2 linked regions of the Homo sapiens genome follow. The protein of the gene in region 1 purifies or fractionates together with the protein of each later gene. This does not show direct contact. Each region holds a gene or a part of one and is shown on either strand. Other genes may lie near its edges. The genes, in order: WDR73 and CCM2.

Region 1 (3,814 bases):
TCCCAGGTTCAAGCAATTCTCCTGCCTCAGTCTCCCCAGTAGCAGGGATTACAGGTGCCTACCACCATGCCCGGCTAATTTTTTGTATTTTTAATAGAGACAGGTTTCACCATGTTGTACAAGGTGGTCTTCAACTCCTGAATTCAAGTGATCCACCCAGCTCAGCCTCCCAAAGTGCTACAATTACAGGCATGAGACTGTCCCCAGCCTGAGTCTCCTTCTTAACTGGCTCAGATTAGGGGACAGGGGTGTATGAGTCACACTTTCCTAGAACCCCAAACCCCATCAAGTCAAATTCACTCACCACTGTCCTCTGCAACCTGCCACACCTGCAGATAACAACCTGGAAGGCCACTGGTAACCAGCAATCTATTCAGAAAAGACAAAATCAGTCCAGACCATGGGGAGCTTATCCACACAGGTCCCTTCCCCTTTCCAGCACACTTAGCTTGGGACTCCACTTCCCATATCAGGACATCTTACTGCAAGATCATCAAGGCCAACCACCCTCATTTCACAGATAAGGAGCAGGCTCAATCAACTTTAGGGAGACTGAGCCCAAGCTTCCATGTGTCATGATGGTCACCTACAGAGGACACAAGTATGGGGCCAAACACAACCTGACCCAGAGACTCTTGGCCTCTCCCAACTGAGCAATTATCACCCAAGAGCAATAGAAGAGCATCTTTCTGTCCCGTATCTATTCCCTGGAGCAACTCCGGTAGAACTGTTACTTACATTAGTCCAAGGGCTCTGGGGGGCTATGAAGCCACAGCAGTGGTTTCTTTGTATTCTAAATCTGTGTGTATCTGTGTGCACACACTTGTGCACTCACATGTGCCTGTGTGCTGAGGGGGTGGGAATGGAGATGAGGAGGCAGAATACCCCCAGGCATTTGCAGCCATCCCATCCCATCCTGTGTGGATGGCTGGATCACAAAATTGACCATACCTGGTATGTGGCACATGCTTTAGATCAAAGATAGACCTGTCTGAAAATCCTCCATGGCGCACTTTGAAATCTCTTTCTGGGAATAAGCCCTAAAATACAAAGGAGTAGCCAATCAGAGCCAGCTCTTCAAATGAACATTTCAGAGGAACTCTAAGTGAGGAGTCAGGTCCTAGCCTGGCAGGAGGCCATGGAAGCCACTCAGCTGGTGAAAGGGCGTTGGTGTCCTGGTATTTGGCAATGTTGGTCTCAGCTGCCTACACGTACAGCTTCCTTTTTCCTTTGCACATCCAAAACCCTTCTCCTAGCCTTTCACTAGCCCCTTTTACTACAGCACAAGCATTATACTCCAGGCCTTCCTAGAGAAGCCAGAGAAGCTTAACAGCTTCATCAAAGAGAGCAATGAACACATCCCCATTTCTCCCTCCATTCTCCCGCTGGAAGTCAGGTGGGTTCCTCTAACGATAAAAATTAACAATTACAACTTATCAGTATTCACTGTGTCAGGCGCAGTGTTTAGGGCTTTATCACATTTAATTCTTACAACCTCCTATGATATAGGTACTATAATTATCCCTATTCTACAAATGACACAACTAAGGCACAAGGAGCTTCAGCCACTTATATAAGGTCATACAAGTATTAAGTTGTGAATTTGAACCAAAGTCTGTCTAACCCAAGTCCACACTGTTAGCCACTAGGCTCTACTATCTCCATGTAAGGAACCAGAGGCAAGGGAAAAGGAGGTGGCCATAGAAGAAACAAGGCAAAGCTGGTGGTGAGCGGGGAGGTTAAATCAGTTCTCACAGCTAGGCTCAGTCTGGGTGAACCCCTGACTCAAGCCTGACTGGAGATGGGGAAGATGAAGAACACTAGGTGCTACCCTATAGCTTCTGTAGCCTCTGGGTTTTATGAGTACAAATTTGGCTTTTTTTTTTTTTTTAACTTTTTTTTGAGACAGAGTCTCACTCTGTAGCCCAGGCTGGAGGGCAGTGGCGTGATCTTGGCTCACTGCAACCTCTGTCTCCCCAGTTTAAGCTATTCTCCTGCCTCAGCCTCCTGAGTAGCTGGGACTACAGGTGTGCACCACCACACCCAGTTAATTTTTGTATTTTTAGTAGAGACAGGGTTTTGCCATGTTGCCCAGGCTGGTCTCGAACTCCCAACCTCAGGTGATCCGCCTGCCTCAGCCTCCCAAAGTGCTGGGATTACAGACATAAGCCACCACACCTGGTCTTTTTTAACTTTTTAAATTTTGTGAAGAGATGGGCTTGCCATGTTGTCCAGGCTGGACTTGAACTCCTAGGCTCAAGCAGTCCACCGCCTCAGCTTCAAAAAGTGCTGGGATTACAGGTGTGAGTCACCATGTCAGTCTACAAACTTGGCATTTTTCCTAAGCTTTCCCTCTTGAGATTATAATTCAGTATGTTTGGGAAGTATGCTAGGAATATGCATTTTAGCCAGCACTCCTAATGGCCCTGGTAGGGTGGTCCTCAGGCTACTTTGATAAAAACTGGGCCACATCTGCATGGGATCTAGCCTCTCCCAGGCTGAACAATGTTTTTCTATGTCCTTGTCTAGCCTCTTAGCCTCTTCTCTTCTAAACAATTAGACTCAACTCCATAACATGGTGAGGCCCTAAGATAAATTTATTTACTTATTTTTGTGAGACGGAGTGTCATGCTGTTACCTAGGCTGGAAGTGCAGTGGTGCCATCTCAGGTCACTGCAACCTCTGCCTCCTGGGTTTAAGGGATTCTCTGGTGCCTCAGCCTCCCCTGAGTAGCTGGGATTAAAGGCATATACCACCACACCCGGCTAATTTTCTTTTTCTTTTTCTTTTTTTTGAGACGGAGTCTCACTCTGTCACCCAGGCTGGATGCAGTGGCTTGATGTTGGCTCACTGCAAGCTCCACCTCCCAGGTTCAAGCAATTCTTCTGCCTCAGCCTCCTGAGTAGCTGGTACTACAGGCGCATGCCACCACACCCGGCTAATTTTTGTATTATTAGTAGAGATGGGGTTTCACCATATTGGCCAGACTGGTCTCGAACTCCTGACCTTGTGATCCGCCCACCTCAGCCTCCCAAAGTGCTGGGATTACAGGTGTGAGCCACGCGCCTGGCCAAATTTGTTTTATTTTTAGTAGAGATGGGGTTTCACCATGTTGGCCAGGCTGGTCTTGAACTTCTGGCCTCTAGTGATCTGCCCACGTTGGTCTCCCGCTCCCAAGGTGCTGGGATTACAGGCATGAGTCACCGCACTCGGATTGTTTCCTATTTCATTAAATAATTTAAAACAAAACAAAATAAAAAAGGCCAAGTGCGGTGGTTCACACCTGGAATCCCAGCACTTTGGGAGGCAGGAGGATTGCTTGAGCTCAGGAGTTTGAGAACAGCTTGGCAAGACCCCGTCCCTACCAAAAAATACAAAAATTAACCAGGTGTGGTGGCACATGCCTGTGGTCCCAACTACTCGGGATGCTGAAGTGGGAGGATGGCTTGAGCCCAGGAGGCAGAGGTTGCAGTGAGCTGAGATCGCGCCACTGCACTCCAGCCTAGGTGACAGAGTGAGACCTCAAAAAAAAAAAAAAATTTTTTTAAGAAGTTTGGGGCCAGGAGTGATGGCTCATGCCAGTAATCCCAGCACTTTGGGAGGCCGAAGCAGGCGGATCACTTGAAGCCAAGCGTTCGAGACCAGCCTGGCCAACACAGTGAAACCTCATCTCTACAAAAAAATTTAACAATTAGCCAAGCATGGTGGCACATGCCTGTAGTCCCAGCTACTTGGGAGGCTGAGGCGGGAGGATCACTTGAGCCTGGGAGGTTTAGACTGTAGTGAGCCAGGGATCGCGCCACTGCACTCCAGC
Region 2 (3,814 bases), on another chromosome or scaffold:
GAGTCCTCCAATGATCATTCCTCTCTGTGTCCTAATAACTTCCTATAAGGACATCCATCAGATTGGATTAGGGCCCACACAATTACCTCATTTTACCTCAATCACCTCCTTAAAGACTCCATCTTCAGGCCAGGCATGGTGGCTCAAGCCTATAATCCCAGCACTTTGGGAGGCCGAGGTGGGTGGATCACGGAGTCAGGAGATTGAGACCATCCTGGCTAATACGGTGAAACCCCATCTCTACCAAAAATACAAAAAAATTAGCCAGGTGTGGTGGCGGGCACCTGTAGTCCTAGCTACTCAGGAGGCCGAGGCAGGAGAATGGCGGGAACCTGGGAGGCGGAGCTTGCAGCGAGCCAAGATTGCACCACTGCACTCCAGCCTGGGTGACAGAGCAACAAGACTCCGTCTAAAATAAAAACAAATAAAAAAAAAAAGACTCCATCTTCAAATACAGTCACATCCTGAGGTCCTGGAAGTAGGGGCTTCAGCACATGACTCTGAGGGGACACTATTCGGCCCACACAGGCAGGAAGCAGGAATGAGGAGAAGGTGCACATGAAACTGACTGCCCACACATGGGCACAGGGGACTTCGTTACATGATTTTTTTTCTTTACATTTGCTTTTGAAGTTTTCATAAAGGTGTTCCTGATCACTCTTACCAAAGCCTGCTCCCACCATCCATCCCCGGGCTCCACTTCCTGCTCTGCAGCCACAGGCTCACCGTACACATTTCAGTCTCCAGCATCTGTGTCTGACACCATTGGTGCTAATAAACAATAGTTTAATGGACAAGTGAATGCATGATGTGGAACACCTCCAGTGGCTTCAAGTGCATACAGAACCAACACCCAACTTCCCAGCCCAAGGACTTCCCAGGACTGGGGGGTCCTCTCCACCTCATCTCTGCTTCTGAACTGCAGGACACAGTCCCGGTCTCAACCTGGCTGGAAGTGGCTGCTGCCTGCCCCATGTCTCTTCTGACATCCTAGGTCTGCCTTTAGTCTCTAATTTTAGGTGTAAGTGACCTACTTTCCAAAGTGCAATGTCCCTAACCCTCTTCTCAGTGGGCTAAGCACATAATAGGCAAGGCATGACCAAGTTATCTCACTAAAAACTTGTATCGCCACCACGTAAACCAACAATAGAGGGTGATTTAAATGCTCAATAGTTAGGTTTATAGGACTTAATCATGACCATTTACTTACACTGCAAAGTGACAACAAGGAGGGGGCACTGCTGACGGAAATGAAAAAACTGGAAGATCAAGAGTAAGCGCCCCAGTGGGGCAGACTGCAGACGCCCTTCTCGTCTGCAGGGAAGCCCTTCACTGCAATAATATTGCTAAGAGAAACGTTTTGCTTTACACTATCTTCCTCTGAAAGGATGCTCAGAGCAGCCCTGGAAGGTTCTGATGTGCTTTCTGAATCTAAATTATGACAGAATCTGACAATATGTTGAAAATTAACAAATACATACTATGTAAATGGTAACTCTTCAAGACAGAAAAGTAACCAGCCTTATGTTGCCGATCATTCTGGCCTCACCTACTGGCTGCCTTAGGTTCTCTGCTGAGCACCTCCTGCCTGGTTCTCCAGCCTCCTGACCCTGAGTTACCAAGTTGCCATCCAAGAATCACTGCAATAGCTACCCAAGAGGAAAAATAAAACAAAATATAGCAGCCCCAATTCACCTTCTGAACCCAAGTATGGCTTGTGACAGTTATAGAATCGGTTTAGTGGGTCATGACCATGAGCCTTTTTTTTTTTTTTGAGACGGAGTCTTACTCTTGTCGCCCAGGCTGGAGCGCAATGGCACATTCTCAGCTCACTGCAACCTCCATCTCCCGAGTTCAAGCAATTCTCCTGCCTCAGCCTCACAAGTAGCTAGGATTACAGGCCCCACCACCACGCTCAGCTAATTTTTGTATTTTTAGTAGAGATGGGGTTTCACCATGGCTGGTCTCAGACTCCTGACAGGTGATCCACCCACCTCAGCCTCCCAAAGTGCTGGGATTACCAGTGTGAGCCACCGCACCTGGCCAACCACCAGTTGTAATAGAAAGAAAAAAAAATAGAATTAAAAAATCAGAGCGTTTAAGTGTGGTTCCTTTAAACTTTCACTTCGGTTATACAGACACACACATTTATGTCTGCATCAGGTCAGCATGGAGAAGGTATGGCTTCCTGGTGCCTGCAGTGACCAAATTTTAAAAGGTACTGGTCCAATCCAAGCTTTCAGTTCCTCACAGACACTGGTCCAGCAGTGACTACAGCAGCTGATAGTTCAGGGCCTGTAACCTAGAGGATCTTTTCCCCTCCACTTTTTATTATGGAAATTCTCAAAAATACATAAAAGTAGACAGAACAATATATAACCATTACCAAAGCATTCAGCTATCCCCTTTGTTTCTTCTATTTTGAGTAAAGCAAATCCCAGAAATCATATTATTTCACCTACAAATATCTCAGAATACATGCCTATCAGATCAGAACTTAATTATCATACCCAACAAAATTAATAATTCCTTATTTATTATTTAATATCTAGTCCTACATTTCTAGGGAACTTTATAACCTTTTTTTTCTCTTTTTCTTCTTGAGACAGGGTCTTGCTGTCACTCAGGTGGTGGCACAATCACACTCACTGCAGCCTCGACCTCCAGGGCTCAAGCGATCTTCCCTTCTCAGCATCCCAAGTAGCTGGAACTACAGGCATGCACCACCATGCTCAGCTAATTTTCTTATTTTTTGTAGAGATAGGGTCTCACTACATTGTCCAGGCTGATCTCAAACTCCTAGGCTCAAGTGATCCTCCCACCTCAGTCTCCCAAAGTGCTGGGATTACAGGCGTAGCCACTACACTCAACCTATAACCTTTTTCTACCTTAAACAATGCAAATAAACTAGATGAATGTAAAAATATTTAACTTTGATCAGTGTGAAATCATAGCCACCTGGTGGGGCAACCGAAGACCAGAGGCAGCAGAGAAGCTGAGACCCACAAGGTTAAGGCCACAAGATGGTTTTTTTTTTTTTTTGGAGATGGAGTCTTGCCCTGTTGCCCAGGCTGGAGTACAGTGGCATGATCTCAGCTCACTGCAACCTCCACCTCCCGGGTTCAAGAGATTCTCCTGCCTCAGCCTCCTAACTGGGATTATAGGCACATGCCACCACGCCCAGCTAATTTTGTATTTTTAGTAGAGACGGGGTTTCACCATGCTGGCCAGGCTGGTCTCAAACTCCTGGTGTCAAGTGATCCGCCTGCTTCGGCCTCCCAAAGTGTTAGGATTACCTACACCCAACCCTGACAAGACAGCTTTTTTGGGCTGTGATCTGAGTATAAAAATCCACACAACCCAACTTAAGTGCATCCAAGTTTCTAATAAAAAGGAATTACTGTCAGGTGCGGTGGCTCAGCCACCCAGCACCTTGGGAGGCCAAGGTGGGTGGATCACCTGAGATCCGGAGTTTGAGACTAGCCTGACCAACATGGAGAAACCCCGTCTCTACTAAAAATACAAAAATTAGCTGGGCATGATGGCACACGCCTGTAATCCCAGCTACTCGGGAGGCTGAGGCAAGAGAATCACCTGAACCCGGGAGGCGGAGGTTGCAGTGAGCTGAGATCGTGCCATTGCACTCCAGCCTGGGCAACAAGAGCGAAACTCTATCTCAAAAAAAAAGGAATTACATAGTGCCACAATGCACAGAACATGAGTCCATACCGTAGGTAGGAGCCTTATTCTCCAAACCCCAAAACAGAACTTGTAGGCTAAAAAGTAGACACTCTGTAGACATCAGGACAGAAGA

Evidence for each region.
Region 2: the proteins of WDR73 (region 1) and CCM2 purify together in Homo sapiens (co-immunoprecipitation; one large-scale study listed by IntAct). This does not show direct contact.

What each region holds. Positions count from the first base shown.
Region 1 is NC_000015.10:84,647,586-84,651,399, forward strand, and holds part of WDR73 (integrator complex assembly factor WDR73), read right to left. Parts: intron 1,041-3,814; coding exon 952-1,040; intron 370-951; coding exon 305-369; intron 1-304. UniProt on the Homo sapiens protein: Component of a multiprotein complex required for the assembly of the RNA endonuclease module of the integrator complex. Associates with INTS9 and INTS11 in the cytoplasm, stabilizing the INTS9-INTS11 heterodimer and blocking the active site of INTS11.
Region 2 is NC_000007.14:45,002,957-45,006,770, reverse strand, and holds part of CCM2 (cerebral cavernous malformations 2 protein), read right to left. Parts: intron 1-3,814. UniProt on the Homo sapiens protein: Component of the CCM signaling pathway which is a crucial regulator of heart and vessel formation and integrity. May act through the stabilization of endothelial cell junctions. May function as a scaffold protein for MAP2K3-MAP3K3 signaling.